Homo sapiens: one gene and its partners. The protein of the gene in region 4 purifies or fractionates together with the protein of the main gene of each other region. This does not show direct contact. Each region holds a gene or a part of one and is shown on either strand. Other genes may lie near its edges.

Region 1 (7,028 bases), on a different chromosome or scaffold from region 4:
AGACAAAGAAGTATGGCGAGAGTGGCTGGATATGGGGCAGACAATGGATAGAGGTATCCTGAAAAAGAAGTCTGTAGCCCAACATCTGGTTCTGCCAACTCCCACAGGCTGCTAGCACTCACCGCAAAGCAGCCAATCACATCGTTCTCTGCAAACTTGTCTCCGTAGTTTTCAAACCGGCTATTGGTGGACTTCTTCCCAGTGCCTCCATAGCCATAGGAGAAAGGCTCTTCGCCTGACGGAAGAAATAGGCAAAGGCAGGTTAAACCTGCGATGGTCATAACAGCCTCAATGGCTGCCACATACTTTTATTTTTGAAGAAAAAAATCATTTTCTTTACTAGTTTTATTAATCAGATGCCTTTTTAAAATAGGGGTGGGGAAGGGTGAAAGGAAGCCCTTAATGATGTAGAACTTGGAGGGCTTGATGGGTTTCATTGTCCAGTCTGGGAGTAGGAGCTCAACTGAATAACTCTGCACAGAGGGGAGAATTTGAAAAGAAAGGGAGGAAGGAAGACAGGAGTTGGGATGGAGGAGAATGGCTGTATGCTGAGATGCAACCCTTCCTTGTGACACCCAATATTCAGTCCAGTCTACTTGTGGTAGAAATCAGTGAAGGGGCTGGATTTTGCTCCTGGAGACCATGAGGACTGACCCCTGGGAAAGGTACTAGATTTCCTCAGGCTACAGAACTGGGTGCTGAAGTGATATGACTGAGAGATCCCAAGGGCTCTGGCTGACACCTGAGTTAGAGATTCCGGGCAGAACCCAAAGAGTATGCTGTTAGAAAAGCAGGGGCCGACAAGCATGAATGCCAGGGCTCGTTCTGCTACAAACCAGCTATGTGACCCTGGATATGGTGCTTGACCTCCTGGGCTGTTTCCCCATCCCTATCAACTGCCACCACCTACATCTCAAAACGGAGACAGAGATAAGATGAGATGACTTATGAGTCTTAAATAAAAAGTGCTAACACATATGGAAATGAAAACTGTATACTTTTTTTTTTTGGTGCTAACATATCTACCTTTTTGAGGAGGTACCAATTTATGGGGTACATGTGCAATTCTGTTACATGCACAGATTGCATAGTGGTCAAGCTTTTAGGGTGTTCATCACCTAAAAAATGTACATCGTACCCATTAACCAATTTCTCATCCTCCTCCACCTTGTTACCCCCTAACACTTCTGAGTCTCCATTATCTATTATTCCACTCTCTAAGTCCATGTGAACATATTTTTTAAACAAACACTTGTGAGTGAGAATATCATCTATTTTTAAAGATTAGTCTTAAGTGGTCAGGCAATTATGGACCAGGATAATGGCTCAAGTGTTAAAACAGCAAAAATTTGCAATAAGTTTAAATGAGCTACAGAAGGGGACTTGTTAAATAATGCAACTATAAAATGGAAAATTATGCAGTAGTCAAAAAGCTGCAGTTATTTACAAAAATATGCCCATCATACATTAAAACAAGGCTATACAAAGTAGTCCTAGTGTGATCCAGTTTAAAGATGTACAAAAAAATAAATGTCCAGAAGACTACAAATGGAATGTTAACATTGGTTAGTTTCTCTCACAGGTTTAGGAAGGATTTTCATTTTTCCCTTTCTGTATGGCCTGAATTCTTATACGCAACACATATTATTTTCATAATTGGAACGTTTGTATGATCATAAACGGAAGGCAGGAGGTGTCAGCATTGGTCAGAATAATCAGTCACTTGGGACCAGAAGGTCATTGAAGCCTGGGGACCCGCAAAATTCAAAACCTTTCAATAGGCAGCCCCTGCCCCTCTCCCAACTAGCCCTGGCCTCACTGGTCTCTGCTCCCCTTTTTCCTCTAGGTTAGGCTCCGGACAGAAAATACAGACAGAACTTAATGGAGCTTGGGAACTTATCAGCAGCTTGGTTTAAGGGCAGGAGACACTGATCCTTTTTACAGAAAGGGAATAGATTCCTAAAGAGAATTTTGGACCCTCTCCTAAAAGATGAAGGATAAGAATTGATTCTTCACAGAAAAGTTGTTTCATGACCATAGTCCTCTCAGTTGAATACAGCATGACAGAGACAGTGGCATATACCTAATCCTTGTACCTGTTCCACTTCAGCCTAGTTCTATTCTAAGTCTGACGCTGGAAAAGGAAGCTTAGGAGCCTTGAAAATCCAAGGGTAGGGACAGTCACTCTATTCTCTGGACTGCATAGCTGACCCCTCCTTACCTAGCTGGGTGCTGCAGGAGTCCAGGGACCAGCCGATACGGACCACGTGGGGGTCAGGCTCTGTAGACGGAAGGTGCTTCACGGAGATTTCCTCATTGATCTGAGGAAAGAGGACAAAAGGGCTCAGGGTTGCTTCTCTGGAGGCCGTAGGTTATGAGCCAATATAGGAGGGAAGCATATCAGGCATTAAAAAATAGCAATGGCTTTTCTTGCTGGAGAAGAAGCGTTTAAGCAGCTCTGAAAAGCCTGTTGAACCGAATCGAAGCCAGGGCCTCCAAAGGGATCAGTAGAGTACAGGGCCACAGAGACAGGCATTTCAAAATACGGTTATGTTTTAGTTTAAGAGACTCTTGTAACATCTAGTAGAAAGATAAACTGTTACAGTGTCTTTAGAGGGCAATCTAGAAGTCTCTATCAAAACTGTAAATGGCTGGGGATGGTGACTCACACCTGTAATCCCAACACTTTGGGAGGCCAAGGCAGGAGGATGGCTTGAGGCCAGGAGTTAGGAACCAGCCTGGCCAACATAGCAAGACCCCATCTTTACAAAAACATTAAAAGAAAAAAACAACAAAACCCCATAAATGCACATGCTCTATAACTCAGCATCCTATAGATACACTAATATGTGGACAAGTATGTCTACGTATGTGTGACTGTATTTGTATATGCAACATTCTGTGCAGCATTGGATGTATATATGTGCACATATATATATATATATATATTTTAACATCAGAAAAAATATCAATAAAGCACTGATTATGGTATATCCATGCCACAAAATATGATGCAACAGTTAAAAAGAGCAAAGTAGGCCGGGCACGGTGGCTCAAGCCTGTAATCCCAGCACTTTGGGAGGCCAAGGTGGGTGGATCACCTGAGGTCAGGAGTTCGAGACCAGCCTGGCCAACATCATGAAACCCCGTCTCTACTAAAAATACAAAAAATTAGGCATGCGTGGCGTCATGCACCTGTAATCCCAGCTACTTGGGAGGCTGAGGCAGGAGAATCGCTTGAACCCAGGAGGGAGACGTTGCAGTAAGCAGAGATTGCGCCACTGTATTCTAGCTTGGGTAACAAGTGAAACTCCGTCAACAAAACAAAACAAACAAAACAAACAATCAAACAAACAAAAAACAAGGAGCAAAGCAGTACATTGGGCTAATGTACTGCTATGGAAAAATGTCCAAGATACAGTATTAAGTTAAAAAAAAAAAAAAAGCCTTCTGACTTAATTTCGTATTAAAAGACTAGACTGCCGAATATCCGTATCTACCTGTGGCCTCACTGGCTTTTCAGACACACATTTTAAAATCTCTGAAATCAGGATCCATTTTACAATAAATGTGATGAGAAAGCACTGCGTATGCTGGGTGCGGCAGCTCACGCCTGTAATCCCAGCACTTTGGGAGGCCAAGGCAGGCAGATCACCTGAGCTCAGGAGTTCAAGCCCAGCCTGATCAACATGGAGAAACCCCATCTCTACTAAAAATACAAAAATTAGCCGGGCAGGGTGGCACATGCCTGTAATCCCAGCTACTGGGGAGGCTGAGGCAGGATAATTGCTTGAACCCGGGAGGCAGAGGTTGCAGTGAGCCGAGATCGCGCCACTGCACTCCAGCCTGGACAACAAGAGTGAAACTCCATCTCAAAAACAAAAAAACAAACAAACAAAAAAAGAAAACACTGCGTAGTTTATTTTGTTGCAGTGTTTCTCTATGAGAGGTACATAAAATAATGCACAACTTACATCAATGGTGTCGTGGTCAATAAAATATAACCCTCTGTGTTTCAGCTTCTACCTCTAAAAACTGGGGCTAACAGTACCTGTTTCCAGATGGTACTGTGAGGATTAATGGAGATAATCCATGTAAAGAGCTTGGTGCTGTATCTTGTGCATGCAAAGAGCTCTATACTTATTAGCTATCATCAGTAAGTTTGGATACACAAACCACAGGTAAGAAATTGTTAACACAGAAGTTCCCTCCAGGGAGTAGGATGGTAGGATGGGAACTGAGAGGACATGAGAATAACCTGTTTTGTTTTTTTTGTTTTTGTTTTTTTGTTTTTTTTTTTTGAGACAGAGTCTCACTCTGTCACCCAGGCTGGAGTGCAGTGGCGTGATCTCGGCTCACTGCAACCTCTGCCTCTTGGGTTCAAGCAATTCTCTGCCTCAGCCTCCTGAATAGCTAGGATTGCAGGCACCCGCCACCATGCCCGGCTAATTTTTTTGTATTTTTAGTAGACAGGGTTTCACCATCTTGGCCAGTTTGGTATTGAACTCCTGACCTTGTGATCCACCTGCCTTGGCCTCCCAAAAGTGCTGGGATTACAGGCAAAAGCCACCACACCTGGCGAGAATAACCTGTTTTATCCTGTACTTTTCTGTGCTGTCTGAACTTTTGTTAAACATGAGCATCTATTATTTTCATAAACATAACTTGACATGGAACTGTGGAGAGATGACAGCAGAGGCTGGCCTAAGCTGGCAGTTCTTTGCCCTGTTCTCCCTCTGGCCTCCCTTTAATAAGTGACATCTGAGTCTATTCTTTCTAGATCACTTTTCTTCCAAACAACTTCTTTTCTCAGTTCTACAAACATGTCATCACTACACTGGTTGACTACATAATACCTGGGTCAAATCTCACCAAGGAAATATCTGCTTGATGAAGCAATGCATGGTTGGCCTGCTTTTCTGATATGATATTTAGCAATGATGTAGTTGTCTTGAGTTCATCACAGTTTTGTCTGCTTGGACATGGTATTGCACAATCCAATCTCTTTTGCAGTTGCAGCTCTGACCAAGGTGGCTGGTATCAGGATATTACAATGGATGGACTTCTCTGTCCCTTCCCCTTCTCTTGCTCCTACTCACCTTCATCTCGAAGCATACACGGCCCCTTCTGACCCCATAGCTGGCACGGGCTCCTGACCACAGGTATGCAAAGCCCTCAATTGTGAGCGGATAGCCACTACTCCGATCTCGGGCCACCTTGAAGTGGAGGTCGCAGTTATCTGTGAAGGAAAATGCCCACAGTTGGCTGATGTTTTTATTTTGTTTTGTTTTCTTGAGACGGAGTTTCACTCTTTTTGCCCAGGCTGGAGTGCAATGGTGCGATCTTGGCTCACCGCAACCTCCGCCTCCCGGGTTCAAGTGATTCTCTTGCCTCAGCTTCCTGAGTAGCTGGGATTACAGGCATGCACCACCACACCTGACTAATTTTGTATTTTTTAGTAGAGATAGGGTTTCTCCATGTTGGCCAGGCTGGTCTCGAACTCCCGACCTCAGGTGATCCACCTGCCTCGGCCTCCCAAACTGCTGGGATTACAGGCGTGAGCCACCACGCCCGGCCTGGCTGATGTTTTAGAAGTCCTAAGAAAGAAGCAGGCAGAGGGAACTTCCCCAAGTGCTGACCAGGAGTACACAGTGAACACATCATGGGGGCAGTTTCAAAAGGAACCAGCACACCCCTCAACCTCTCTCCCTTTGAGTAGGGAGGATGTGCAGTATTGCAAATTGGCCTGTATGACCTCAGAGAGGAACTGGGGTTCTTTATCTGGTGGGATCCAAGGATGGGGCTTCAGGGGTATCCTCAGAAATTGTCAACACATGTCTTTGGTGGGGATGTGTATTTGCTAGGGATAGGGTCCATATCCTCAGCAGTTTCAAATTAATTTTTTTTTTTGAGACAAGGTCTCGCTTTGTCACCCAGGCTGGAGTACGGAGGCATGATCTCGGCTCACTGCAACTTCTGTTCTCCTGCGCTTAAGCCATCCTCCCACCGCAGCCTCCTGAACAGCTGGGACTACAGGGATATGCCACCATGCCAGGGTGATTTTTATATTTTTCGTAGACAGGGTTTCGCCATGTTACCCAGGCTCAAACTAGTTTTTAGAATACAAAAAGGTTAATCACCACCACCATATATTCCTACCGCCCTCTGTGGTAATTCTATCAATTTGGGAACCGGACTTCTGTTTCCAATAGCTATACAGGGATCTGACCCTGATCCACACCTGCCACCCAGGAACCAATGCCCAGGTGCCCCATAGGCTCCTAATTCCTTTCATGGGCCTAGGACTCTCCTACTGTTGCTCTTACCCTTCTCAATATTCTCAATATTCAAGGAGCCAGTCACGCCTCCAAGAAAGCCTTTCCTGACCATCCCTCCCATGAGGCGCTCTCCTTTCTCTAAAGGCTGACCGTCATGATCTGTACATTTGCATTTCATCTAGACGCTGCCTCATGAACCACTGCCACCCAACACTTTTTAAACAATGTTTACCTCTACTCTGGGTAGATGTTGTTTTCGAGAGCTTGTGATATTAGAGATTGTGTATATTTTTATCTCTTACTAAAGCATGTAGCCAGTGCTTTATAAACAGAAGCTTCTGTAGAAATAGATGAATAAATTGCTGCTTATCTTCTGCTCTGTTGAGAAGTGCAGTGTTCTCAGACCTGATTGGGCTTCTGGGTGCATGTAAAAATTTAGATTCATAGGCTCGACCACTTAGACTCTTGACTAGGAGGTCTGAGCGAAAGGACCTTTATAATAATTCCTCCAAATGCTCAGATGCACAGTGAAGGTGAAAGCCACTTATCCAGTGGAAAGAAAACTGAACTGGAGGACAGACAGCAGGGCGGGCCAGGTTAGTGCCTCACAGGACACAGTGGCATTGGTTTCACCAGGAACTTGAGCAGCTGATGGAAACGGGAACTGGTTGTCAAAGAGTTAAGTTTCCCCAGCTGCACTCAGATTCCCTTCCTGATTAGATGACAACCCCTGTGTGTACAGGGCGGTTC
Region 2 (6,668 bases), on a different chromosome or scaffold from region 4:
GCACACAGTTTGGTCTGTTTCAGCAGGAAAAAAAAAAAGCCAGAGAACAAGCCTGACTCAGGCAGGGCCTGTGCCCCAGGGCGTTAACTTCACAACAGGGAGACAGGATGGCTTTCGGGGGGCTTTTTTTTTTTTTTTTTTGAGACGGAGTCTTGCTCTGTTGCCCAGGCTGGAGTGCAGTGGCGCGATCTCACTCACTGCAACCTCCGCCTCCTGGGTTCGAGTGATTCTCCTGCCTCAGCCTCCTGAGTAGCTGGGACTACAGCCATGAACCACCGCGCCTGGCCTCAGAAGGCTCTAAACAGCCAAACGCTCCATTGTAAGCCGGGGGATTACAGCCCACAGGAAGGCAGTTTCCAGGGAAGAGTCTCCCCCCATCTGTGGGCAGGCACCCACCCCTGGGGCCTCAGACAAGCAAGAGAGGGGATGAGATCCCTGCTGCTTGGACTGGAAGCTCGAGTGACCCCAGCTCCCCACACCTCGCGTGGTTGCCCACACAGCACACACAAGCAGGCCGTTTTCAGGAACCGGTATTTATTATCAAAGTCATATTCGATGTCAACAAGATGCCACAACTACAAAAAAAATTGCGCACATTGCAATCTCAATGCAAACAGTCAAATGGAACCCCAGTCATTAAAAAAGTAATTCAAATTACCCCAAAAAGCAACTGAATTTTTTAAACATCTTTATACATCCAGCCAACAAATTAAAATGGTTAACAAGAAAAAATACAAATTCAGAGGTCTCGTATCGATGTTTAAAAAAGGCAACTGCTTAAGCGTTTCTATCAATTCGAACGTCAATCTCTCGGCCACTCAGCTTCATGCCATTCATCATCCGGCAGGCTCTCTCGGCCACCTCTGGCGACTCGAACTTAACCACGCCACACCCCTTGGACTTCCCATTCTCCATCTTGATGTCGGCGTACAGCACGTGGCCTAGGACAGGGAGGGAAGAAGAGACGACACTCAGTCCCGATTTTGTTAGATTTTGGTGGACAGAGTCAAAAAGGAGAGGCCCTGAAGCCTAGAGCACAAAGGCTCAGAATACAATGGCGAGAACCAATGACTACGGCCCCCTCAGCCACACTGCCATTCTTCTGCTAACAGAGCCTGCCCCTGCCCCATGAAAAGCCTTCCTGGCGGATTCAATGCACGCCTTTACGCTTCAGGAAGTTCAAAAAAGAAGGCGCAGTGTAAAGCCAGCTTTATAGGCAGAAAGTTCCCATACATTTTACAAAGTCTTCATTTTTGATATGCCACCGCCCCTGGTTACAAAGCCATCCGCAATCCAATGGACACGTCTGTACTGTCCAAATGAAAGCCAGCAGGTTTCACTTATTCATTTGAGCACCCGTTAAGCATCCAGATATGTGTCAACGCCGTGGACAGAGCCCTAGAGGGCAAAGGCTCTACTCCAGGAGTACCAAAGGTGGTAGGGCCACAATGCCAGAGGTGGGAACTCAGTGCCTAAGAGAGGGCCCAGGGCAGGTAGGGTGGAGGGGTCCTCAGGGGCAAGTTCTGAGTGAGCTTACACAGAAATTCACCAGAAAGAAGACTTGCCAGTAATTGGCTCACACGAGAGCATTGCGGGACACGTGCAGCACTTGCCGCTCAGGTTCTGGGACAGGAGGGAGATGGAGGAGGATAGGACCAGGTCTTCAAGGGGCTTGTGAGTCTGGACTTCCTCTTGAAGGCACAGGGCCGCTCCAGGCATTGCAAAAGTGGGGGCTGGGGGCGCTGTGATCCCACTGGCCTTTTCAGAATATCTAGCTACAACATGGGAACTCAGGAGTGGGGAAAGAGGTGAAGAATGGAGCAAAGAGGCAGATCATGACTCAACGGCTTGCCCCAAGAACCATGGAGAAGCAGCAATGGTGGTGAAATCGGAGCCACTGCTGAAACAGGAAGCGGGAGGACAGTGCGGAAGCAGCTGCCCAGACCTCTAGCTCAGGCCCCTCTAGCTAAAAAGAACAGAGGTGGTGCATGCGGGGTGGGGGCTCACCCTGGAGGGCAGGGAAGGAAGACAACTTGCTTTCAGCCACAGACAGAGCCCTCCAGAAGAGTTGCCCGATGTGCCAGGAAACCACAAGACCTTAGCCTCACCCTCACAGGAGCTGCTGTGTGCCCAGAGCCTGCACCGCCTCCCCATGGCACCTGCTGGGCTGTGTTCTCTCCGAGGCCCCACACCAGCTGTGCTGAGGGGAAAGCGACCTCGTCTGGGATGTATTTATTTAGCCTTGCCACCTAGAAGCCAGGTAACCTCAGAAGGAAGACTCTGCCTGACTCATCTGTGAAATGGGGACACTACTACCTTGTTTCAAAGACTCAAAAAGAAAAAAGGAAGTAAGGATGAAATGAGAACACAGCTGAAAAACATGTGACACATCACAGGACACTCAACAACCTGCCTGAGCATTGGCGTGGGCAGAACATGGCAAGGCCATGGGTCCTGAGCCGACGGAGGGGGCTGGGAGGGAGGTTTTGCTGCTGACTCGGCTGCGTCACCAACAAGCACGAGGGAAGCACCTACAAAGCCGTTCCCAACACTTACCGCACTCGTTGAATTTGTCCTTTAGCATCTTCCATGTGAAATCGAATGGCAGCTGAAGGGGAGAAGAAAAGGGAGACTGATGCGTGATTAAACCAAATCCTAAGGCATGCCTTGCAGCTGGCTCTGAGGGCCATGCTAGATTTCTCACTATACCGAGAAGCTGGCTGCCCTTCAGACTGAGGCGATCAGCAGGAAACTAATAGATACATGTGGGACAAGGCTGTGAAGCGGCACAGCCAGCTCCCTCCCTGGGGCTCTGCCTGTGGGAGCACCGTGCAGGATGGGACACTCAGGCCTGCGGTGCGCAGCCCACAGTCACTAAATAGTGGCTAAGGGTGGCTGAGCTGGGGAAAATAATTCCGTTACAGCCACTTCTTTCCCTGGACCATCGTGCAACACATAGTGCCTCTTCAAGCCAACCAATCAGAAACTGGAGTCTCTGAGCTCAGCGTCTGCTCCATATTCTAGCACAGTGGAGAAGCCCAGGCTCTTCCAGAACCCACAGTTCTCACATTCCTTACTTGTCCCACTAGCATAAAACGTTTGGGACAGTGGCAAGGAGGTGTGGTCCCCTTTGAAGGGCGCCACCTCTGACTTCATCCTGCTGATCTTTGCCTCCCCTGTCCCCTCATGCTCACCACCACCAAGAAGTTCCCCAAGAGCCACTTACATTTCTCACAAATATCTGGCAGGCCTTCCTGGCCACCCCAGGAGCATGGCCTCCAGCTCCACCAAAGGAACCTGCGAAGCTTCCTCCGAAGTTGCCACGCTCCATCTCGATGGCACGGTCAAAGCTGGCACCGCCACCGCCACCCATGGCCAGGCCCATGCGCTCAATGCCAGCGCCCAGGGCCGGGCCCATGGCAGGGCCCATGCGCTCGAGGCTGTTGGCACCCATGCGCTCCAGGCCCATGCGCTCGAGGCTGTTGGCGCCCATGCGCTCCAGGCCCATCCGCTCCAGATTGTTGGCGCCCATGCGCTCCAGGCCGGTGGCCATGCGATCCATCACGGGGCCCATGCGCTCCAGGCCAGCTCCCATACCTGCGGGCACCATGCGCTCCATGCTCAGGCCCATGCGCTCGATGGCAGGGCCCATGCGCTCCACGCCAGAGCCCATGCGCTCAATGGTCTGGCCCACACGGTCGATGGGAGCGGCCATGCGCTCAAGGCCGAAGCCCATGCCGGCACCCATGCGCTCCACGCCAGAGCCAATGCGCTCCATGGTCTGGCCCATGCGCTCAATGCTGGAGGCCATGTGGTCGAGGCCCAGCGGGCCCATGCGCTCAATGCCGGAGCCCATGCGCTCCACGGAGCCCATGCGGTCCATGACCAGGCCCATGCGCTCGATCTCGGAGCCCACGCGATCCATGCCGTGGCCCAGGCCCGCGCCCATGCGCTCCATGCCGGCACCCCCGAGGCGGTCAATGCCAGGACCCATCCTCTCGATCCCAGGGACGCTTCCTCCACCTCCACCTGAAACAGGGACACAAAACACAGGTGGGTGTCAAGAACTTGAGTGTGCGTGTGCACAACACGCCAGACCACTTCAGCTCATGGGCATGGATCAGGGGTAAAGGCCCACCATAATTTACCATTAAGACACCCCTCAAATGTTGACAACAGCTACAGCTGTGTGGTGGGCACATGGGGGCCTCCCAGCATTCTCTCTGCTCTATGCCACAGCTGAGATTTCCATAACACAACTTCTAAAGAACACCCCTGTATGTGTGTCTGTGAGGTGCTAGTGTCTGTGACAAGCTTTGTGAACCATGGACGTCAATTCCTGAGACATCTGAGGTTTCTCCATCAGCAGACACTGAGAAATGCTCCAGGGGGAGGCATGGACACCCCCCACTCGGGGGGCCACCCAGGGTAATGAACAGGAGTTATGTGGAGACAAGTCGGAGTCACTCCCACCTTCCCCTCCCAGCCTGTCCCTCTAGGATGCTCTGCTGGGGGCCACTCTGGCTGCATTTCCTCAGCGCTCCCAGGGCACAGAGAAAGGATTTTCGGCCACACCATCAAGCAGAGGTCAAAAAAACACACACCGAGAGATCCTCTGTGTACAAATGCACACAGCTGGCCACTTTTGGGGACCCTATTGTCAGGGAAACCAAATGACTTGCTGGCTTTGGAAAGAAGATGTTGATGGCACTGCAGAGTGGGCTCTGGTAGCGGCTGGGGGTCAGTCAGCAGAACGAAGGGACGCCCCCACCCGTGGTGCTTGCAACTCTGGAAAGCAGGGTCTGGCTCCGTCAGCAAGGCCACCCCTTTCCACATGCCGAGTTTGGGGCTCCTCCCCGAAACCCTGTCGCTTGCCTCTGAGAGTGGCCATCAGCCCAGAGCCAGCCTGTGACCGACCCAAGCAGCCTAGTCAAAGATACCAATTCAAGAGGAAACTGGGCAGTTTCTCTAACTGGCTCTGTAACTGGCCACACCGCGCCTGCTTCTCTAGCTGCACAGCACACAGTGAGCGGCCAAAGCAGGCCCGACTCTAAGAATGTGTGACTTTCAGAGGGGAGACGTCTCAGAACTTCCCCACAGTATAAGGAACCTAGCGAGAATGGGCACTTTGCCCAAAGGCATCAGAAATGAGGTGGGGCAGCTGGGTGTGGTGGCTCATGCCTGTAATCCCAGTACTTTGGGAGGCCAAGGCGGGCGGAACAAGGTCAGGAGTTCGCGACCAGCCTGGCCAACATGGTGAAACCCCATCTCTACTAAAATTGCAAAAATTAGCTGGGTATGGTGGCGTGCGCCCGTAGTCCCAGCTACTTGGGAGGCTGAGGCAGGAGAATCGCTTGAACCCAGGAGACGGAGGTCACAGTGAGCCGAGATCGTGCCACTGCACTCTAGCCTGGGCGACAGAGTGAGACTCCGTCTCTCAAAAAAAAAAAAAAAAAAAGAAATGGGAGGAAATGGTACCAGCGTGGAGCTCCAGAGCCAGCCCAACACAGAAGTCAGGAGGTGAGATGCCAAGATACTCAGAGGGAAAATCAGGCTGAAAAAGTACATTTGGGCCAGGTGTGGTGGCTCACATCTGTCATCCCAGCACTCTGGAGGTATGCAGGTCACTTGAGGCCAGGAGTTTGAGATAAGCCTGGGTAACATGTCAAAATGCCATCTCTACAAAAAAAATCAAAAAATTAGCCAAACCAGGTGGCACACGCCTGTAGTCCCAGCTACTTGGGAGGCTAAAGTGGGAGAATCGCTTAGGCCTGGGAAGTTGAGGCCGCAGTGAGCAGAGACTGCACCACGGCACTCCAGCCTGGGAGACAGAGCGAGACTGTCTCCAAAAATGCTCAAAAAGTACATTTTGTTCTCAGTATCCATAAAGCTGTGTATGAATGAAAGATTCAGAACAAAATGTTTCCGGCAGTCATCACTGGGCGATGGGGTTTCAGACCATACTTTCTTCATATTTTCCTAATGAGTACATTTATCTATTTTACAAGCATTTATTACTTGTTGGGTGGTGTGCTTTCAGTCTTATCATCAAGTCTAAGGAAAATATATTTACTTTTAGGAATTTATAATGTGGAAAACAAAACCCCCAAAAGAGAGGTACTCTAACAATGAAGATGGTCGGCCTGTGCACAGCACGTGCGGAAGCACTCTTTCACATGCATTCACTCTCCACAGCATCCCTGAGGCAGGTACTATTACACCCCCATTTTACAAATGAGTGCTATGAGAAACAGAGAGGTTCAGTGACTTGCCAAACGTCACACAGCTAGAAAAAGGCAGAGCTGCTCCCACCCCGGGCAGTCTGTGTCAGAACCCGCACTTCTCACCACTAAGCTCTACAGTCCCCAGCGATAACAGCCTGTTCTAAAAAAACAAAACATCAAACTAAGCGGTTCCTACCTCCTCCCTGCTTTGCAATGATCTCTCCTCTCTTCAGTGCATTACTTAGGATTTCTAAGGAAATCAGGAAGAAAAAAAAATTAGCCAAATTCCTCTATGGCAATAGAAATGTGCTCATTACAGATTCCAGAGTAGAAATACTACTAATAAAAATGACAAGATAAAGGGAAAGGGGTTTGAGAAACACACGCACAGACAAGATCATTTTACAGAGAACTAGGAGAGTCCTTGATGCTGGGTCACGATGC
Region 3 (6,402 bases), 9.2 Mb from region 4:
GGGTACGTTCTTGTGAATTTCCACTTTCCAGGTAGATGACCAAATTTAGGTGGTCAAGATATAAAGGTGTCAGCTAGTTTTAAGTGTGAAACTTATTTCACTTTCACACTGCCTTCAGGCCAGAAGCAAACCAAATTTACCAGGTTTGGCTGGAGGAGTTTTGTGACTCATCTTTTACTGGTTTGAATTTTTTCAAACCAGTGGCTGATACCTGCCTTGTACTTAGTACCTTAATACCAATAACCTAATGGTACTTAGGCGAGTACCATTTGCACAATCACTGTTTTACTTATGAGCAGATACAGATATATCCAAACCCTTACCTACTAGGTATCCTGCTAGGGTTTTCAATTCCAATTCTTGTATTAAGTTTTTTCCTTTCAGTTTTAGGTGCGAAAGTAATCAGTCAATCCAATATCCCCCATCTTTGTCTTGAAACAAAAACTGTTTTAAGACGTCTACGTTGAATTATTCAGAGAATTAAGCAATAAAAGCTCACACCTTATTGTCAACAGTGTTTTTATTTATACCTACAAAAAGAAAACAAGATGATGGTATCAAAAGGACAATTTACAAACTAAGAATAGTAACATAGCTTTCAGCATCCTGTGCCTGAACATCACACATCTACAAGTCTTTCAAGTCTTAATGCAACAGGAATGTGTCTGGAGACCAGCAAGAACATCAATAGAGAGCACTGATCCCAAGCAAAAGCCACTAACCTTTTAGATGAGAAGTCCACACAACGAATTGTTAGGGAGGATTGGGGAGAAGCAGCCCATTGCTTAATACATTGGAACCCTTTCCCTAAGTTGAGTTTCAACCATGAATGCAATAACTAGCATAAAACGATTCTTCTGCTCATGTTCTGAAGCCAACAGCAGAACCTGAATTATAAGTGACAGACATGGAGGCAGAAGAGTTAAACTCTGCTAGATTTCAGCTGTGCTCAGGCCATAATAGTTTTTGAGGTTTGGAATTTACTGTTATTTTATGATTACAATGTCCCAGGTGGAAAAAGGGAAGCAAGCAATCCAAATAACCACTTGCTTGCCCAGAGACCTTTCCCTCAAACAGATGCTTTCAAGAGCTGCGAGAGAGTAGGGCATCCCTTGTGGTGGTACCTCTATGTTTAAAGAAAGAAGAAAAAAACCCAGAATTTGGTTGTAGAAAACAATGCCCACAACAGACTGGCCAGTGCTTAGACAAATTTGGGGTTGGGGGGAACACTTTGGTTTGAAAGCACAGAGCAGTTTGCCATGTTTCTTCTGTGCCTACCATTCTCCCTTGGCCTCAACTTCTGTAAGATGGGGGGGGGACAAAAAGAGAAGTAAAGTTAAGAAGAAAGTGGAAAATTAAAAAAAAAGATGTCAAAGTTTTTACATGCATATATTTCAGCTTATGCTGAAGACCTACCTGTATGTTGCACATTGAATCATACTTTCAGAACCCCTCAGAAACCATCCCTCTCTCCCTAAAGAATTTTAAAAGGAAAACAAAACCTCGAGTATAGATCTTACAGATGAGCAAGCATTCAGGCCTTAGCCAAAGAATGCAGTGGAGCCTTCCCCCTTCAACTGCATTGTGAATGAATACCAATTAACAGCATAAAAATTAATAGTCCCATATCAGATCTGGAAGGGGTTTCTGGGGCTGTCTGATGTCCCTATCCTGTTGTAGTGAACACAATAGCAGAAAATTCTTTCTGGGTCCATCTGCTATAAAGTCTTGGTAAAACAGCATTACCATGAAGAGGATGAACTCACCTACCTTCAGATGGAGGAAAAGTGAAAAGGACTTAGGCTTTAGTCCTCCATGACTTTTCTTAAGCACTACCTACCTGTAATAAGCTGAGTGCAAAAGGATGCCGAAGAAAATCTGCACCCAGAAGCTGTTAGAAAGCACTGCAGAGAACAGGGTATGAAGAAAATAAAGAGTTCTTAATAAACCCTTAAGATTCTTTGTTCAAGGTAACTTTGCCAAAAGGGCAGAGTAGGTGGCAAAGAGTTGCTTTTAATCTAGCTCTACACTGCATTTGAAAATAAAATTTGCCCATTTTGAATATATTGTTTATAATTAAATGTGCTTTTTACACTGCAGGTCAATATAAAAACTGGTTAGTAAATTTCCAGCGAGCATTTATGTTCATTTGCTCACAGCAGCTGTCTGGATGGAAAATTAATTTCACAGATGGTCCCCAGTTAAACTGGGAAGAAATATAGGCAGCTTCCACCCAGATGCTGAGATGCTACAGTTTAACCACTACAATAAACACTTGTGGTTTTTAATTTAAAGGATACACAAAACTCAGCAATTCAATTTCTAGCCTGACACTAAAATGGTTATTTTTCAGTAACGGGGGGAGAAGTGGGGAGGCAGAGTGTGAAGGGAAATAAAACCAATTAGTAATTTTTAACTATCAAATGCACTCCAGCAATCAGTCAAAACAGGCCCGAGGAAACCTGTTCCAACTTAAGAAACATTTAAAAGCACAAAAGAAAATGTGCAGGGCAATCCCTCTTTGTTTTCTAACCCAGTAATGAGAAATTTAAAGCACAGATGCCATCTTCCTCTGCAAAACAATTCAGCCCTCCCCCTCCCTCCCTCCCCACCAACTCAGAAAAACAAAACATGGGGCTCCCACAAAAGGGCCTAATACCTTACTCTTTTAGATGAAAAATAGCTCAAATATCTTCAACATGCAAGAAGTTGGGGGAAGAAATTAATCTCTTCCAGTCAGCTATATATATATATATATATTTTTTTTTTTTTTACAAAATGTTATTCCAGACTGGATCATTTTGGTGGGCAGAAGAAACCTGGCAGTGAATTCTAACTAATCTGCATGAAAAGACAAATCACGATGGTTGGGGGGAAAAATTAAAAAAAAAAAAAGAAAAAAGGAAAAAAAAAGAAAAGGCGAAGAGGAAAAAAAAAGGAAAGACAGTGTTCCTTAAAATGTAATTAAGTCTGCTGGAGTCACTACCACTTGAGTGGTTTCATTTACGTGAAGGAGGAGGAGGGGGAGGAGGAGGAGGGTATTGGTAGGCAGTCTGCCCCATGTAACCTATCATATTGGTAGCTCCCGGAGGCTGTGCAAACTGTTGTGACATCAGTGGCTGTGGCTGCTGCCCAGACCGGCCTATCCCACTAAACTGCTGGCTAGAGCTCTGTGAACTTCTCCCAGTTGAGGTGGTGCTACTAGCTCCATAAGTGCCAGCACCATATTCTTGAGCTGTATAGCTACTGGTGCCATAAGCAGCTGCCCCATAGGTGCCTTGACCATAGGTGTATTGGCCTGCTTGTGCTCCAAAGGCAGAATTTGGACTTCCATAGCCACTGCCATTAGCATAACCAGCTCTATCGGTTTCACTACGATCCCGATAGCTTGCAGAGTCTCTCCGGCCACCATCCTTGACTCCTCGAAGCCTTCGGTCACACTCATCCTGATACATCAGATTGGGATTGTTGGCTGAAGAAGTGGTCCGGTAACGAGAACGACCACCTAATGGGAAGATACAAGAAGATTTTTAATGGCAGATATAGGACCTAAACATAACAATGTAAAAATTCTACTGGGTACAAAAGTATTAAACATGTCTCCTTGATATTTAGTTATGCTGGCCAGCCTCCCAATTAGTACTGTAAAAATATACTCATAATTTGATTCTTTAATGGGGCACATTCAAAAGCACAGTAAAAATTAAAGGACACTAGACCTTTTCACCCTTTTAGGCCCCTTACTTGAGGATGATCAAGAAACACGGTATTACAATATGAAACCTTGAGTCAGGAAGCCCAGATCCTAGGATATTCTGCAACTGTAGATGCAACTGCTATGTCTCAGTTTCTACCCACCACTAAACAGTGTAAAATGACTGACCTCTCCGTATGGAAAACTGGAAACCTAATATACTACTAAGCATTTTTGAAAGTATTAAAAAAGCAACCATGACCGGGGGCACACTGGCTCACTCTCGTAATCCCAGCACTTTGGGAGATCAAGGCAGGAGGGTCACTTGAGGTCAGCAGTTCAAGACCAGCCAACATGGTGAAACCCTGTCTCTACAAAAAATACAAAAATTAGCTGGACATGGTGGCACATACCTGTAGTACCAGCTACTTGGGAGGCTGAAGCAGGAGAATCACTTGAACCCAGGAGGCAGAGGTTGAAGTGAGCCGAGATCGTGCCACTGCACTCCAGTCTGGGCAACAGAGTGAGACTGTCTCTGCCCCCGCCCCGCCAAAGCAACCACATTAAAACTCAGACCAGCCTCAGCTAGGTTTGGTGGCTCACTCCTGTAATCTCAGCACTTTGGGAGGCCAAGACAGGTGGATCACCAGAGGTCAGGAGTTCGAGACCAGCCAGGCCAACATGGTGAAACTCCACAGACCAGCCTCAGCTAGGTTTGGTGGCTCACTCCTGTAATCTCAGCACTTTGGGAGGCCAAGACAGGTGGATCACCAGAGGTCAGGAGTTCGAGACCAGCCAGGCCAACATGGTGAAACTCCACCTCTACTAAAAATACAAAAATTAGCAGGGTGTGCTGGCGGGTGCCTGTAATCCCAGCTACTTGGGAGGCTGAGGCAGGAGAATCACTTGAACCTGGGAGGCAGAGGTTGCAATGAGCTGAGATCGCGCCATTGCACTTCAGCCTGGGCGACAGAGCAAGACTCCGTCTCAAAACAAACAAACAAACAAAACCAAACCTCAGACCAGTCTCTAAGAAAAAAAAATTCACAATTTAGCTTAACTAATAGGACTATCACAACAAACTTCACGTTTTCTTAGTTGAAAAAGGTTATAAAAAGCATTAGGCAGTGTCCTTTGCTATTAAGCAACATACTTACAGCCTTCTTAAAAACAGCAACTAAAAGCAAGTCACAGAAGGCGTAAAGAGATACCTTGGCAGTACCTGGAAAACTCCAGGACTTACCCTTACCCCCGCCTCCGCCGCCTCCTCTGTGGTCCACAAGCTGCATCAGTTTTGGATTGATAGCCTGATTGGCCTCTTCCAGCACTTTGATAAGCTCTCTGGCCTGTTTTAGGTTCCCTGGGGTGAAGAAGGTATAGGCGGTACCCTTGTTGGTGCTACGGGCTGTTCGGCCAATACGGTGCACATAATCCTCTGAGCTGTTTGGATAGTCATAGTTGATCACAAACTTGACATCTTCCACATCTTCCACGTCAATGATGAGTCAGTGTGTAGGTTGATGTGGCAGGGAAAGAGAAGGTAAAGGACATGCCAACAACAGGTGGGAAGCACGAATGCAGATGACAGCAAGAGGAAAGAAGGTGAAGTTAGTAACCACTCTGAACAGAAACAAAAAAAGACTCATCCCAACAGAGTAAAAGAGGATTACTGATTCCTGGGACATGCATAGGAAATAGGATCTTTATTGGCTGTAGAATCCTAAGGGAATCCCATCCAAACATCCAAACTCCTGCCTCTGCTACATTTTACCAATATACTGACAGGAGTTACACCAATATTGGTCTTCAGACGCAAATTCCAGTACTATCCTTTACAAAACCAGAACATAGAACAAAGTGGTAAACCACTGTGAAGTTATGAGGCCAAATCACTTCTACTCTGTTGGGAGAAGCCTGGCAAAATCTACCAACAACATAACAAACTTACCTTTAAACCAGTCACAGAGCAAAGTAAAAAAAGGAGCTTCATATATTTTATTACTACAATTTAAAGGAAACTTAAATGTTTTGATTAACATTTAACTTTTTTTGCTCTTATCTTTTTAAGAAACTGAGTAGAGCCAAAGCTGTTAAGTACACACCTATTTTCCTTTGCAGAAACATCCAGATTATCTATCCCCTTTCAATTACAAGAGCACATTACACTAAAATTTTACTGTACTACCAAGCCCAGCTTCTGCCAAAATGAGGATATTTTTGCTCAACTCAAGGTTATTTCAACTCAGGACTTGTTTCAATTATCAATGATTGTCTACGTGACCTGGGAAATTAAATTAATAGCCAAAGAACGTGGGAAAACCATGAAACCTTGAGACACAAGTTTAGTATTCTCTCTACTGCTGGGAATTGGGCTGAATAACCTCCTAAGGCTTAAAATGTAAATGTTAGTGTAATGCTTTCAGCTGAATGTATATTTTTACCTACTTAAACAAACAATTTTAAGAATATAACAAAGAATCCTACTGTTTTGTGGAAAAAAATCTGCATTTTACAAAGAATATTCAGAAAATATCCTAGATAAAACACAGATTTTTGTGATATAAATAATTAAAAAACATTCTCTGTTTGTTACCAGACCGATGCACACTCCCTCCTCCTTTGGGAAACCGCTGCAGCCGATCCCGTCTCTTTGCCTTTTATTTTTGGCGGCCTCCTTTCGAAAACTCCGCCTTCTGACACGGGACCAC
Region 4 (7,028 bases):
ACAGATTATTTTAAGTGTACACAGTTGCTTTCTTTCCCTCCAACATAAGACTGACGCATTAAGGACACCATGGCCTTACCTTGTAGGTGCAGTGGCTGCTGGCTGCTGCCCATAGGCTGGATAAGCAGGCTGAGTGCCATATGCAGACTGAGCTGCATAGGAGGCCTGGGTGGTGGTGACTGTAGCAGTGGTGGTATCATAAGCACCAGTGCCATACCCCTGGACAGGCTGGCTGTATGCCTGGGGGGCAGTTGGAGTAGTATAACCTAGAACAAAGGAGAGCTGCATCAGATTTCAGGTCCCCTCAGAGATCTGCCTAGACACTCATTATCAGAACAATTTGTAAACCACTTACTTTAAACCATCAGGATATTGAATCCCTTTAAATATTCCCCCTTCCGCAAGAGTAGCAACAAACTGGTATTTAAAGCCTAAGTTCTCTGAATGTACCTAGTTTTTGGTAAAGTAACTGTCTCATTTGCTCTAAAACCACACCTAACAGAAATGGCATGTCATGCTACAGAAAACAGGGTTCCTTCTGCCCCCTCTTGAATGCTGTGAATAGGAGACAAGTCTGTTTTTGCCAAGTCTGTACTGATTTTGCTAGCAGGTCGTCTTAACAAGTTTGTAAACAAACTTACCCCAAAATACCCTCAAGCAGGAATAAAACATCCCAGAAGAAAAGGTAAAAGGCAAATGACATAGCATTTTAAAATAATTAGAAAATGATCCAGGTACTAGTTCTAGCACTAAAACCTGTAATTTGGGTAGTAATTAATTTAATCACTTTCTTTTGGTCCCAAGCACTAACATCATGTGAAGCACAAGCTTAATTACTTGAGCACATGATTAATAAAAATAAGCTATAAATTATAGTTGCTTAACACAGTTTATCCTTTTTTTGTAAATTATTTAAAATTAAACTTCGATATTGCTCCAAACAAACATTTAAAAGGTAATGTTTTCACATCATAAAGCAGATTCCTGCCTCGTTATCAAGTTACTCAGCTCCATTCCTCTTACTTACCTACCACAAGCAAAAGGCCTTTTTCCTGCTCAGCAATATTGGAGGTAAACCCTAGAGTCTCTCCTCCCCTTCAGTATTTCACTAACCAGGTGTCAGAAAAAACCTGGTTTCACAGGTATGCTGCAAAGCAAGATGCATTCTATCCCTAGCTCCTGCCTCTGCCAGACCAGGCAGGATCCATGCCTTTCCCTTCGGGACTTCGGCGTGGAGCATGACCAAAACCACGAAAGTCTGCAGCTCCTAACTAGAGTACCTTTCCTGTAGGAGGTGTTACAACCATTCCTGGTGCTGGACTCTTCTTCCTCATGGTCAATGGGTACAATTAAGCCATGCAATAAAAAGTTTGGTTTACACTTTGGGAGGCTGAGGTGGGAGGACTGCTTGAGTTTAGGAGTTAGAGACCACCCTGGGCAATATAGTGAGACCTCGCCTCTACAAAAAATAAACAAACTTAGCTGGGCATGGTGGCGTGAGCCTTCAGTCCCAGCTACTTGGGAGGCTGAGGTGGGTGGACTGCTTGAGGCTGGGAGGTCAAGGCTGCAGTAAGATCCAGCCTAGGCAACAGAGACCCTATCTTAAAAAAACAAAACAAAACAAAACTTTGGTCTAGGTGCTGGCATTTATATCCAAAAAAAAAGTCTACATCTCACTAAAGAAAAAGCTTCCATATTTAAAATAAATCCTGAATCAAGACTGCCCATTTTAGTTAAGATTTAGGGCCTTAAAGTGTCCTCATGTACTGGCCAGAAACAAGTATCAGCTTCCTTTTGTACAATCACCATTTGTAGCACAGAATATAATAATACTCTTTCTTCTCTACCTCAAATATTAAAAGGAAATTCTGAAATTATACACAGAGATAGTAATGTCCTTGTCAAAACTGCTGAGTTAAAATGTGTATGAAAGTATACATAGTTCCAGAAAACAGGAAGCCCCAAGCAATAAAAGTTTTTGAGTTGGCATGTTGTTCATCTGAACTGCTTAAGTTTTTGCAGAGTCCTAAGGTCAACCACATAAGGCATTCATTTATTTAAATTAGAATCTAATACCATCTACCCTACCGTTCATATACCGATTACACCCCACTACATGACACGTCTATAAGATTTACAAGGAGGGCAATTAAAAAAACAAAAAACTAAAAGTGATCAGGGCAATAACTCATGTCATAAAACTATGCAGCAACAGTTAGGGCCTTGTCATGCTAAAGATTACAGCAATAGACACTGGGTTAATAAATAACCTTTTAATTAATCTGTAGTACCCACAAAAGCAGCCAAGCAAAATGAACAAAAATCAACAGAGCAAAATGATTTAATGACCAAAAAAAAAACAAAAAAACAAAAAAACAAAAGACCAGTGGCAAAAAAAGAAAACACACCTACTATGTGCTGACAACTTGAAGGAAAAAGGTGGTAAGAAATATTACACAAACCAAAACTTTTGTTCAACGTAAAAATTAAGAAGTTTTTAAGAATTCCATTGAATTGAGGTTTATATAACCCCTTTCTTCTGAAGTTTAATTTTTAAAAATCCTAGAAGAGAACAGTGTATTTCTATGTATTCCCTCCAATGACTATCCGATAACTTTCATGTGTAAAGGCAGTATGAGGTAAGGAAAAATGCAGCATGTGTGCTTGAACCCACGCACTACCAATTAGGCTCCTGCTAAGTTTTGTTCACACAGTTTGCTCATCAGGCTTAATTTTGGTGTTTTTATACCCCAAAAGTTCTTGGGAGGATTAAGGGAGACAAGAAGGCCACTCTATAAACTGTGAATTTTATACAAACATTATTATTACTAAGTGCAATCTCCAGCTCATCAAAGCTACTAGTCTCTAAACTAGAATGACCTGTACTTTTTAGGCCCACAGTCATGATGGGGATTTCTCAACCAACGACAATGTGATACATGGCTCTAGAGAACCATTAATTTGCCTATAAATCACTCCGTCTCATTCCTGTAAAATGATCTAAGGATTCGGAAGGCTAGATCTAGGCCACATTAACTTTCACATCATGCTTGTTTTAAAAAATGTAATGGCTTTAATACATGAAGTTTATCTCACAATTTCAAAATTCTATGCTAAAAAATCCAAACTGCATAACCTTAGTTCCAGCTCTTCCCACAGCTGCAATTAACACCACTAGAAAGTTTAGATAAACATTTCCCATCCTATTTGAGAAACACCCTAGAAGAGGTTAGGAATTACTTCCCATCAAAATCAGGACACTGGTACTCAATGAGATAAATTACAGACAGGTTTTTCCCCTTAACTGGACTATATATAATTTGGAGAACTAAAGACAGTTTGAAAATAAGAGCTCTGATATCTTTAAGACTTTATTAGAGTCTTTTATAACAGCAATAATAAAAGGGCAGGGGGAGACAGCCTGAAACATTACACAGCACTGAACACAAAAAAATTATCATAGGTTTTTCATGTATCCCACCCAACCTCAGTATCGGAATACAATTTCTTCTAATTCTTAGAATAGTTTATTTTTTAGTATCTTGGAATAATGTTATATATATTCAAGACATACCATGGATTAAAATAATTCATAACACTTAAAACAGAAAATAAAATGTGTCTGGACTAGAAACCAACCAATAGACAAACATGATACATGCAGGGTGGCAGTCTGCTCCTCTAAATAAATCTCATCATGCAATCTATCCTTCAGGGAACAGGGGAAAATCAGCTGGGGAGAAATCACCTGAAATACCTTTGGGAAGGTAAATAACTATTATTAAGGCTTGAAACAAAGTAATATTAAATAAAAAAACCTTTCCCAAAATCATATAAAGAATAGGACATGGATCTGCAAATGGCACCTGAAGCAGTTTTTCATTAGCACCTTGCTGTGTGTGATGTTAGAAAGTTTGGGGGTTCAACAAATGAAAACACCTAAAGGATTAACATTACAGGGTTAGACAAGATGGAAAGCATTTCCCATGCAAGAATGAGCAGGATAGTCAAACCTGTACTGGTCCCTTCTACTGTGGAAAGCACAAAACAAAAAGTAGAGGGTACACTATCAGATGAAGCAAACATGTGAAAACCAGTTTGATTTTTAAGCAGCTCAATTTAAGAAGACTCATTCTTACTCAGTATTAGCATTAGCAAAATCTTTTACATAGTCTCCATTTCATCGTGAGATTATTCAAACAGTTAAAAGTTCTTTTCTCTCTTGGAATTTATCCCACCCACATTCTATTGGAGATCTCTCAAGACTATAAGAGTAGGGAAGAAAGAGAAAAAATACCTCTTCCTAAGAATAAAGGATTCCCCAGATGCCAAGGTATGGACCAGAATATACATCCGAAAGCATGACTAATAAGCTTCTTAGCCAATGCCCTAGCCAGAACGACCCAAAAATCTCTCCAAGGCAGGCCTTACCAGTGGGAGGCTGTCCATAAGAAGTTGCATAGGCGGTCTGCCCATAGGTTGCAGTGGTCTGAGCCTGGGTATAGCTGACATCAGTGGGCTGTCCATAGGTTCCATAGCTTTGTTGCCCATATGCCTGCTCCAAAAAAAAACGAATGCAAGAACTTCATACATGAACTTTTGTATTTTAGCAATAAAATGGACTAAATTGGAGAACCAAAATCAAAAACATTCCTTTCTAGAAGATTAAAAAAACAAAACAAAAACAACAAAACAAGACAAATAATCACAGTATCATGAATGTTATCCCTTATCTGGTTCACTCATATTATGGTAAAGTTAGCTACGGAAAAAGCTCATTAGGTAAGTAGGCAATGTCATTCACAGCTTCTCAAAAGGGGGAAAAAAAAGATAATCAGGCAAAACCTCAGTTAACTATACATGAGATTAACAAGACACTCTCAAGGGAAGAGCAATAAGGGCACAGGTGTATTAACTGCTAGCACTTAGCGTAGCACAGTTTTAGTGATTGGAAACAAAAGGTACGAAGACAAATGAACAGAGAAAGCAATGAAGAGGGCTAAAATCTGTCAGAAAAAATTGAAAACCAGATTTTCAGCCTGACAAAAAGACTTTAAAACTACTATACCACTTCAAAGAAAATGAACCAGAACGCTGTATGTCCTCTTATGGTGGGCACATCAAGAGTACTGTCTTTTGAACTTAGACATCCATAATACTTAAAATCAGGCAAGGAAGAGTTGTTCTTTCAGATATTAGCATGATTATTCTCTAGGTTTGTTTAAATGACCAGTTATGTAAGATCTGCCAGAGACATCACATTCTGCTTGTCCTAGAACATGTTTCCATGGCAGTTATTAGTATCCATTTTATGGCATGGATCATTTCAGAATTCAACATTATCTTGAAAACACTAGAAGGCTAATTTCTAGAATCTGTTGGCCTAGGCTTTTCAACAGACTCTTCACTGGAAAGAGCTCAGCAGCTCCTTGGCTAGGTCGCCAGTTTTTAGAGCTAACCCCGCCACTTACTGTGCAACCACTGGCAAGTTACTTAATATCTATGCACTGCAATGTTCTCCTCTGCAGAATGGTCATATCATCCTCTTCCTTTGCAGAATTGCTATGATGAATAAATTCACTAAATTTAAACATAATGAAGAAGGACCAAGCATGGAACAGGGCACCTAACTTGAGAAATCATATTAAAAAGTTATAAAGAGTCAATTATCAGCTTCTGAATGGTTTCATTTATGATGGCACAATGGAGTCCTTCGCACTCCCACTGTGAAAGTTTAAAATGCCTGGGTATTTTACTATTCCAAACACATTACTCATTTGTTTTACTGGATAACTGAAAGATAACTGGATAATATACTGATTTTACTTGGAGGTGCAGCTACATGTAATTATTTTAAAGATTACCTGGGTGGTCTGTGCATATCCTTGAGTGGGCTGGGCGGTGTAAGCACTGTAGCTGCAAAAGAATTAAATGCAATAACTTGAATAGAGAACATTCAAATACCACCTCTACAATTATAGAAGGCTCCATATTCAAAAAATATTAATCACACACAAAATACGGTTATAAAAGACTGACTTACCCCTGCTGCGCTGCAGCTTGGCTATAGGTACTGTAATCTAGAGGAAAACAAGGAGGAAAAATAGTGTAAAGTTAGCAGAAACAAGGAGAAGAGAAAAAAGGGGGAAAGAATTCACGTGGCAGGAAGAATTCTTTAAACTGTAGGGAGACCTGCCAACACAGGTCCAAATGAGTCCCCCTTACCTCTCAACATCTAACAGAAAAAAAAGTCTAAACCAGTTAAACTCAACATTTGACTGTGGGACTAGCTAATGAGGTCAAGATCAGCTGATTTGGCAGGTATACTTTTTATGTTCCCATGACCACAAAACCCATCCCAATCCCAACTGTCATTTAAAATACAGGATGATCATCAATATCACAGACTGACAACAAGATCTACTAACAGGATCAGAAGTTTCTACCCTCATATAAAACGGAGGCATGCAACAATAATACAAAGTTTAACACTAGATTGGTTACGTTAGAACCTACCTCTCCTCAAAAATTAGTTTTCACTCCCCTCACTTTAGCAAGTTAGACAAACCATCATTCCCTAGCTCAACGACAGTGAAACGGAATGGCAGACAAGAAGGCAGTCACCACACTCCAGTGTTTTAAAGGGTTTGCTGTGTCAGAACTATATTTGTGCAGCAACTTAAAAGCTAGATATATTATAAACCCTGGTGAAGCAGAGCTAAGGCAGAACCCTGAAGACTGGCAAAGAAGAAAAAGCATTTAGTCTTTCTGGGAAAAATTTGGTAACACCATTGTCTTTCATACAACTCAAAATGATTTCAACTTAAAAAAAAGACATGAATTTTCATCCCTTATCTAAGTAAACCTCCCTATAATTTTCCTTTTCCTATGAAATTTATAACATGCATCCAAAGGGACCAAAAACTGGTCCACTGAGGTGTCTACAAGTAGTAAAAACAAACGGAAAATAGTTTTCAGAGCGCTACTGCATTAAAGTTAGATAAATTTAGTTTTTTTTTAAAGGCAGT

What was found.
Region 1: the proteins of EWSR1 (region 4) and HNRNPUL1 purify together in Homo sapiens (affinity purification with mass spectrometry; 2 studies listed by BioGRID, with this or other methods). This does not show direct contact.
Region 2: the proteins of EWSR1 (region 4) and HNRNPM purify together in Homo sapiens (affinity purification with mass spectrometry; 2 studies listed by BioGRID, with this or other methods). This does not show direct contact.
Region 3: the proteins of EWSR1 (region 4) and DDX17 purify together in Homo sapiens (affinity purification with mass spectrometry; 3 studies listed by BioGRID, with this or other methods). This does not show direct contact.

What each region holds. Positions count from the first base shown.
Region 1 is NC_000019.10:41,274,370-41,281,397, reverse strand, and holds part of HNRNPUL1 (heterogeneous nuclear ribonucleoprotein U-like protein 1), read right to left. Parts: intron 5,240-7,028; coding exon 5,100-5,239; intron 2,322-5,099; coding exon 2,222-2,321; intron 236-2,221; coding exon 123-235; intron 1-122.
Region 2 is NC_000019.10:8,482,964-8,489,631, reverse strand, and holds the end of HNRNPM (heterogeneous nuclear ribonucleoprotein M), read right to left. Parts: intron 6,475-6,668; coding exon 6,421-6,474; intron 4,030-6,420; coding exon 3,227-4,029; intron 2,609-3,226; coding exon 2,557-2,608; intron 942-2,556; coding exon 778-941; 3' UTR 518-777; downstream 1-517. UniProt on the Homo sapiens protein: Pre-mRNA binding protein in vivo, binds avidly to poly(G) and poly(U) RNA homopolymers in vitro. Involved in splicing.
Region 3 is NC_000022.11:38,482,936-38,489,337, forward strand, and holds the end of DDX17 (probable ATP-dependent RNA helicase DDX17 isoform 1 precursor), read right to left. Parts: intron 5,181-6,402; coding exon 4,944-5,180; coding exon of another isoform or gene 4,938-4,943; intron 3,506-4,937; coding exon 3,000-3,505; 3' UTR 503-2,999; downstream 1-502. UniProt on the Homo sapiens protein: As an RNA helicase, unwinds RNA and alters RNA structures through ATP binding and hydrolysis.
Region 4 is NC_000022.11:29,271,268-29,278,295, reverse strand, and holds part of EWSR1 (RNA-binding protein EWS), read right to left. Parts: intron 6,081-7,028; coding exon 6,044-6,080; intron 5,917-6,043; coding exon 5,865-5,916; intron 4,559-5,864; coding exon of another isoform or gene 4,556-4,558; coding exon 4,432-4,555; intron 4,032-4,431; coding exon of another isoform or gene 4,014-4,031; intron 267-4,013; coding exon 80-266; intron 1-79. UniProt on the Homo sapiens protein: Binds to ssRNA containing the consensus sequence 5'-AGGUAA-3'. Might normally function as a transcriptional repressor. EWS-fusion-proteins (EFPS) may play a role in the tumorigenic process.